Homo sapiens: one gene and its partner. The protein of the gene in region 2 purifies or fractionates together with the protein of the main gene of each other region. This does not show direct contact. Each region holds a gene or a part of one and is shown on either strand. Other genes may lie near its edges. The genes, in order: CACNA2D3 and RAD51C.

Evidence for each region.
Region 1: the proteins of RAD51C (region 2) and CACNA2D3 purify together in Homo sapiens (co-immunoprecipitation; one large-scale study listed by IntAct). This does not show direct contact.

What each region holds. Positions count from the first base shown.
Region 1 is NC_000003.12:54,121,133-54,125,596, reverse strand, and holds the start of CACNA2D3 (voltage-dependent calcium channel subunit alpha-2/delta-3 precursor), read right to left. Parts: upstream 3,046-4,464; 5' UTR 2,884-3,045; coding exon 2,762-2,883; intron 2,541-2,761; exon of another isoform or gene 2,155-2,540; intron 2,085-2,154; coding exon 2,003-2,084; intron 1-2,002. UniProt on the Homo sapiens protein: The alpha-2/delta subunit of voltage-dependent calcium channels regulates calcium current density and activation/inactivation kinetics of the calcium channel.
Region 2 is NC_000017.11:58,699,011-58,702,817, reverse strand, and holds part of RAD51C (DNA repair protein RAD51 homolog 3), read right to left. Parts: intron 1-3,807. UniProt on the Homo sapiens protein: Essential for the homologous recombination (HR) pathway of DNA repair. Involved in the homologous recombination repair (HRR) pathway of double-stranded DNA breaks arising during DNA replication or induced by DNA-damaging agents.

The DNA of each region.
Region 1 (4,464 bases), on a different chromosome or scaffold from region 2:
GTATTTCAGGACCCCCAGAGCAGACGATTCCAAACCAAGGACTAGGGTGGACACCCACCCTGGAACGCAATGCCAAGCAACACCTCACCTTTCCCTCGCATCAGATTACAAAATGCCAGGCAGCAGCAAGAAATGATAACAAAGCCATAAACAGCTGGAAATAATTACACAATTGTCAAGCTGCAAACATGACAAAAGCAAAGCAAAGCTAGTGAATTCAATATCAGAAAGGATGCTGATGAGAAGGTAAGAGAAGCATTTCAGCCTTTTCCAATTTGCTGTTATAGAGTAGCAAATAATAAGGTTGACGGAGTTTTGTGCAGTGTGTGTGTGTGTGTGTGTGTGTGTGTGTGTAACTTCAAAGAGAAAGAAAAAAACATATTTAATGTGTTCCTAGAAAATGTGGGATAAAAGATATGAAAGCACAACCAAAAAATATTAACAGGCTCTGAAGGGATTCTTTTAGAGTTGCTACAACTACAACGTGCAGATGAGAAATACTTCTTTAAAGTTATACAAAATGTTATCTTCTTTAAAAGCATAAGAAAAATATAAAGGCAATGCTACAGTCCAGAATTCATCACATCAAACATCTGACAAGTGGGCAAAATGCCAAAGCAGGAGACAGATTGGTCCAGATTAAAAGAATACTAGGGAAAGAGGCAATTCCTATGCAATTCCTTTAAGTGCCGAGGTGGGCCACAGGTATGTAAATTCTCATCTTCCACGAGGGCATTTCGTAGCCTCAACTGTTTACCAACTGCCTATAATTCAAGAACACCTTCCCAAACAACAGAGTTGAGCAAGCAATCTTTCAATGAATAAGGTTTCAATGAATAAGGCTATTGGCGATTTTTAAACCATAATAACTTTTGTCATTCCATGGTGGGCCAACGCTTTATTACGATATTTGGATTTCATGTGGCAAACTGTTTCATATACTGTCCCCAAAAATGCTACTCTCTGAAGGGGAATGCCATAAATAAAATACGTACTTGGTTACCAGGCAGCATGCATAACACATATGGTACATTGGCCCAAAAATCATATTTTAAAATGTTTAAAAGTTAACTTAACAATTTAAGCTGTTTGTACCCATTTTCAGAGAATTATTCCCTAAAGGCCAATTTTATTTTCTATCATCAAGAGAATACTTTGATTAATCCTGTTGATCTGCTAACTTGAAATTCTTTGAACCCCTCTAATCTCTCCTCCCAGACCCATTTTTTTTTCTTTATTTCCTGAAGGGGAGAACGAAGGACCATTTATCTCACAATGTAATTTTAAGCTTATGCTTAAAATGCTGCCTATTTGAATTAAAATTGATGCAGCTTGTGATAAGAACCTAATAATCAATTCTCCATTCTCATTACTCTCCAGAATTACATGGATGCAGACCCATTTCTTAAGTTTGTGGACTACTCTCATAGGTTATTACCCGGCAGTGCAGCTGAGTGGAAAGATAACCACATTCATTCTCCTTATCTGCAATGATGTAATGCATCCTAGCCCTGGGTCTAGATGATTGGGGAATAATGGGATTGTACAACTGCAGGGATGACAAACAATAGTGCAGCGTCTTTCTCTGATACACTGAACCCCACGCCTCCAACGCAAGGTGAAAGGCATCACAAAATAGGCACTGAGTCTGCCCCTTGGATGAAGTTAGCATTTTTTGGCCCGAGGAGCATCTGCTCTGGCACTGAAACAGCAATACCGACACGGAGACGAGAGCCATGCAAAAACACTCAGTTTCCGAGCCCCAGCCAGGACAGTGCGAGTGAGTATCCTGCTTTTCTTTGTGGTTAGAATCAAGTGTCATCTAAAAATAACCGGTTGGTAGGAAGAAGTCACTGCATAGTACAATGCCAAGAAACCCGGGGATCAGAGAGTCCTCCGATAACTGATGCTGCTCGGGGCTCACGTTTGTTTGGAAAACTAAATCTGCCTCCATTTTCTGTGCCGGAAAAATCATCGCTTCCTGCCACCACAGAAACCTTACCTTTTGCAGAAGCTGGGAACCGGAGTACTTAGCAGCAATGGATTTTATCTCCCCACCAAAAGCCGAGGCCCAGAGCTTCACCCTACAGGGAGAAGGGGCACAGGAAGATATGTAACACCCGTGTCACAGTCAACACGCACGCACACGCACACGCACACATGGGACTATGGCTGAAGGAGCAGTGCGATGTAACATGTTTTAAAAGAAGAAAAGATAGAAAAAGCGGCTTGGTAGAAACTGCCAGCACCAAAACTGCAAAGCGCAGCGCGGGAGGGGGCCCGAGGGGGGTCGCGGAGTTAAGAATGCGCAAAGTCTCCCAGGCTCTCTAAAAAGACCACTGAGTTTCATTCGAACCACTGCCCGAGGACTCGACCCCCCAAACTGGGCATCACCTGGCAAATAGCAGTCAGAAGAAATCCACCCATCCCCCCCCCAAAAAAAGAAGTGGGGCGGCAGTAGAGCAAAGAGGGGGGAAATTCAGCGGCCCATGGAAGTTGGATTCGGTAACCAGGCTCCAAAGTTGGTGCCGTCACTTGAGGTGAGCCTCTCCAGATCTCACTCGGCAACCTGCGGGCAGGGGCCAGAGCATCCCACCCCGGCCTCGCCGCCCGACGCGGGTCCCGAAAGGCAGGTGCGAGCGGCGAGGCCGACGCCCGCGGCGGGTCCTGCCCAGCCGCACCTGCAGGCGCCCAAACTTGGGCACAGTGGGTCGCAGGCGGCAAGGTCCCCTCCCCGGGCGGCGCAGGAGCCGGCACTTACACGGAGAGCGGTATCTGCTGCTCCGAGCGCACCACGTCCCCCAGCGCGGCGTAGAGAAGCGCGGCAGCGAGAAGCGCCGAGGCCCCCCGGGACGCGCGGCGCGGCGAGCCCGGCCCGGCCATGCTGGGCTCCCTCCGACGCGCCCGCTGCGGCGGCGACGAGAGCGGCCGCGGGGAGCTGCGCGGAGCGGGCGGTGGGCGAGCGCGCGGGGCTGCCTGCTCCGCTCCGCGCCGCCCCGCCTGCCTCTCGCGCGCCCGGCTCACTTGGGGAGCAGAAAAAGGAGCGGGTGGGGGGGGCGGGGAGGGCGGAGAGGAGAGGGAGGGAGGAGAGGTGGGGAGGGAGGGAGGAGAGGTGGGGAGGGAGGCGGGCGGGGGAGGAGGCAGCGAGACGCGCCTCTAGCAGCAGCAGCCGCCCGGCCCCGCCTCGGCGGCCCCGGGGAGTCCGGCGGGCCGCGGCGGGAGGGCGGCGGGGCAGGAGGCGCCGCGCGGGCGGGGACTCGGAAACTCCAGTGTCCTTGGCCGCGGCGGAGCGCGCCCTGCCCCACCCGGGCTACTGCGGCCGCTGAGTTCTTTACAACTCCGCAGTCCGCCACCGCGGGCGCGACTCTGGGGCTGGCCCCGGGCCGGGCGACCCTAGCCAGGGTGGGGGTTGGGGGCGCGGGAGGGAAGCCGAGGGCAGGGCGCGGCGCTCCGCACTTTGCGGGCGGCTGCTAGGAGAGGGCGTAGCATGCCCGCTCCGCCCCTGGGCCGGGCGGGGTCGGGGGCCGCGGAACCTAAAGGGGGCGCGCCCTCCGCCCCCGCCGCGCGATTCTCCTGCGGGGAGGGAGCTGGGGAAGAAGCAGAAATCTCAGAAAGGAGCACAGGCTCGCGGCGGCAGGCGGGATCGCACGCGGGGCGGATCGGGCTGGGGATGGGACTGGGTGGGAGCTCGGGGCTCTGGCTAGGGCAGCGCTGCGTGACCGCCCGCAGCTGCTCCTCCGGCCGCGGCGCCCGACAGGGGAAAGCACGGAGGGCGGTGCTGCCACCACGGCTTGGGCGCACCAGCGCGGGGCTCCCGGCATCCGGCCGCAGCGCAGCGGCCCCCTGCGCGCCCGACCCAGGCCCCGGGGCTCCCCAGCGGCCGCTGCCTTCGGAGTCCGCCCGGCTGCGGTGACTGGTGGGGACCGGGATGTCAGGGTTGAGCGAGGAAGCCAACGCGGCGCCGAGTCGATCCTGACCGGGGGACACCCTGGATTTCGGGATAAAAGATTTCTCCGAGCCTGGGGGATTGCCTGCTCCCCACTCCGGCGCCCACCGCACTGGGCAGGAGGCAGTGAGCGCCGGAGGAGGCGCCTTCTCGCCGCCCTCAGGGGCGAGGAGAAAGGAAGCCGGAGAAGCCCCTGCGCGTTCTGGGAACCAGGCTTCTCCCCGCCTCTCTCGCCGCTGCCCCCACCCCGGGACCCAGCTTGCAGAACCCCTCTCCCCCGTGCGAGGTATGGGGTGTGATTGGGAACTTTGTGGAGCCCTCGCGCAGGCTGGCGGTAAAGACCGACCGGAGTGAGGCTGAGTCATCCTTGCCCGGCCAAGCGCAACTCCGGTGACCCCAGCAAGGAGTGCGCTCCTAACGTCGCCGGGGCTCCCGGCGCACCAGACACCTGGGTTCATATTTGCATGCCTTTCTGCAACCAGGGCTTTGCTTTCTGCCCCGTCACCCGCCCTTGGCCT
Region 2 (3,807 bases):
AATCATAGCTCGCTGCAACCTCGAATTCCTAGGCTCAAGGGATCCTCCTGCCCCAGCCTCCCAAAGCACTGGGATTACAGGCATAAACCACTGTGCCCAGCCACTTGATTTTTTTTTTTTTTTTTTAGATAAAGTCTCACTCTGTCACCCAGGCTGGAGTGCAGTGATGCGATCTTGGCACACTGCAACCTCTGCCTCCTGGGCTCAAGCGACTGTCCTGCCTCAGCCTCTTGAGTAGCTGGGATTACAGTCACTCGCCACCATGCCCAGCTAATTTTTGTATTTTTAGTAGAGACGGGGTTTCACCTTGTTGGCCAGGCCGGTCTTGAACTCCTGACCTCAAGTGATCTGCTCACCTCAGCTTCCCAAATTCACGCCTGGGATTACAGGCATGAACCACCACACCCGACCTGATCTATTATTTTCACATTTTTCCACTGTTTCCTTACATATTAGGCTATGTAAAATTATTTATAAACATATACAACTAGTGTTTTAATGCCTGCCTTTTCATATTTCTAGTCACTGGCTTCATTGAACAGAAGTAACATAATGGAAGTTTCTCTTTCTTGCTTTTTTCTATAGGACTACAAATTAAGAGTTAACGGCAGCCTGGGCAACATGGAAAACCCCATCTCTGCAAAAAATACAGAAATTAGTCAGGTGTGATGGTGTGCAACTCTGGTCGTAGCTACTCAGGAGGTTAAGGTGAGAGGATTGCTTGAGCCTGGGAGGTCAAGGCTGCAGTAAGCAATGATAGCGGCACTGTACTCCAACCTGGGTGACAGAATGAAAACTCTGTCTCAAAAAAAAAAACAAAAAAATAAAACACAGTTAGAAAAAATGTTCAAATGAAGCATTTTTTCTCTTGAATGCTATAGTATAATTTGATATTTAACTGGCAACAATTATATAAAATCTTTCTTAGATTGGATGTTTAAAACAAACAGTTTGAGGCTGGGCGTGGTGGCTCACACTTGTAATCACAGCACTTTGGGAAGCTGGGTGGATCACTAGGTCAGGAGTTCAAGACCAGCCTGGCCAACATGGTAAAACACATCTCGACTAAAAATATAAAGATTAGCTTGGTGTGGTGGTGCATGCCTGTAATCCCAGGTACTCGGGAGGCTGAGGCAGGAGACTGGCTTGAACCCGGGAGACGGAGGTTGTAGTGAGCTGAGATCCCGCCACTGCACTCCAGCCTGGGCGACAGAGCAAGACTCTGTCTCAGAAAAAAAAAAAAGTTTGATTTTGCACATATTTCAGAGAGAAACCAATCAGTTACTGCATTTTTTCTTTTTCATTTTTTTGAGACGGAGTCTTGCTCTGTCCTCCAGGCTGGAGTGCAGTGCCGTGATCTCAGCTCACTGCAAGCTCTGCCTCCTGGGTTCATGCCATTCTCCTGCCTCAGCCTCCCCAGCAGCCGGGACTACAGGCGCCCGCCACCATGCCAGGCTAATTTTTTGTATTTTTAGTAGAGACGGGGTTTCACCATGTTAGCAAGGATGGTCTCGATCTCCTGACCTCGTGATCTGCCTGCCTCTGCCTCCCGAAGTGCTGGGATTACAGGCAGTGAGTCACCACACCCGGCCAGTTACTGCATTTTAAAATGCACTTAGCCAGGCGTGGTGGCTCACGCCTGTAATTCTAACACTTTAGGAGGCCAAGGCACGCAGATCTCTTGAGCCCGTGAGTTCAAGACCAGCCTGGGCAACATGGTGAAACTCCGTCTCTACAAAAAATGCAAAAAAAATTAGCTGGGCATGGTAGTGCCCACCTGTAGCCCCAGCTACTTGGGGGGCTGAAGTGAGAGGATCACCTGAGCCCAGGGAGGTCAAGGCTGCAGTGAATTGTGATCATGCCACTGCAATCCGGCCTGGATGACAAAGTGAGACCCTGTTTCACAAAAAGTAAAATATTAAAAATAAATAAAATGTACTTAAATATTAACACTGAAAAAACAAGAAGCTATATTTTAAAATAGAAAACATTTCCTATTGCAAATAGACACTTAGCAGAGTCAAATTTTCACCAAAACAATGACAATTTAATCTCATATCAATCATTTAAAAACTTTAGGCCAGGTGTGGTGGCTCACGCCTGTAATCCCAGCGCTTTGGGAGGCTGAGGTGGGCAGATCATGAGGTCAGGAGATCGAGACCATCCTGGCTAACATGGTGAAACCCCATCTCTACTAAAAATACAAAGTCAGCCAGGCGTGGTGGCGGGTGCCTGTAGTCCCAGCTACTTGGGAGGCTGAGGCAGGAGAATGGCGTGAACCCAGGAGGCAGAGCTTGCAGTGAGCCCAGATCGCGCCACTGCACTCCAGCCTGGATGATGGACTGAGACCCCATCTTAAAAAATAAATTAATTAATTAAAATAAAAATAAAAACTTTATATCCTAGTGCTACACCTACTCTAGTTACAGTAAGGTTTTAAGACACTATTACAAACACACATTGTGAAATAGGTAGCTTTAAGGTATAAGGGAAGAAAAACTCCTTTTCCTGCCACCCTCTTAGGTTTCTTGGCTGGAGCCCTGTAAATCGGACTGACAAAAGATGGATTAACAAGAGAAAGAGTTTATTAATTGTGCATAGTGCATGTAACAACACAGGGGAGTCCAGAGATTAGTAACTCAAAAGTTTGGTTAGATTTGGAGCTGGGCACAGGTGTTCACACTCATAATCCCAGCACTTAGGGAAGCCGACGTAGGAGGATCACTTGAGGTCAGAAGTTTGAGACCAGTCTGGCCAACATGATGAAACTCTGTCTCTACTAAAAATACAAAAATTAGCCAGGTATGGTGGCACGTGCCTGTATTCGCAGCTCCCAGCTACTCAGGAGGCTGAGTCAGGAGAATCGCTTGAACCTGGGAGGTGAAGGTCGCAGTAAGCCAAGATTGCGCCACTGCACTCCAGCCCGGGCGGTAGAGCCAGATTCTGTCTCAAAAAAAAAAGATTTGAGCTTATCGTCCCGAAGGTACAGTAAATTTTTAGAGAAGTAACAAGACAAAGGAAAAGGACCCTAAGTCTCTAAAGGCAGCAAATATTGAAACTAACTGGAGATAAAAGATAGCTAGTAAAATTTGTTATGTACGCTGATAATGGTCTAAAGTTGTCTGTGGTGATTAACTTTTGTCTTCCTGTAAGAGAGGGAAGATGGAACTCTTCTGTGCATTTATGTCCTGTTTTTAGGAAGGGCAGACAGATTTATCTGTTTCTTTTCAATTGCCTTCAGCTCAAAATAATCCTTATGCCAAAGTGGCATATTTCAGGGTGGCATATTCTGCTAGGGTCCAAAGGGCTTTCAGTAACCATGCTGGTCATCAGCGAAATGGGACACTTAGTACCTCCATGAAAAAAAAAAATCCAGCTGACTACACTCATTTAAAGGAAATATACTCATTTAAAGGAAATCTTATGAAAAGCATTTTTTTTAAAACTTTTATTGGAAAGAATAAAGACCGCACATCCAAAAAATAAATAAAACAAAGAAAAAGAAAACAATAGGCCGGGCGCTGTAGCTCATGCCTGTAATCCCAGCACTTTGGGAGGCCGAGGCGGGAAGATCACAAGGTCAGGAGTTCGAGACCAGCCTGGCCAGCATGGTGAAACTCCATCTCTGCTAAAAAAACAAAAAATTAGCCGGGCATTGTGGCACATGCCCGTAGTCCCAGCTACTCAGGAGGCTGAGGCAGGAGAATTGCTTGAACCCAGCAGGCAGAGGTTGCAGTGAGCTGAGATCATGCCACTGCACTCCAGCCTGGGTGACAGAGCGCAACTCCATCTTAAAATAAATAAATA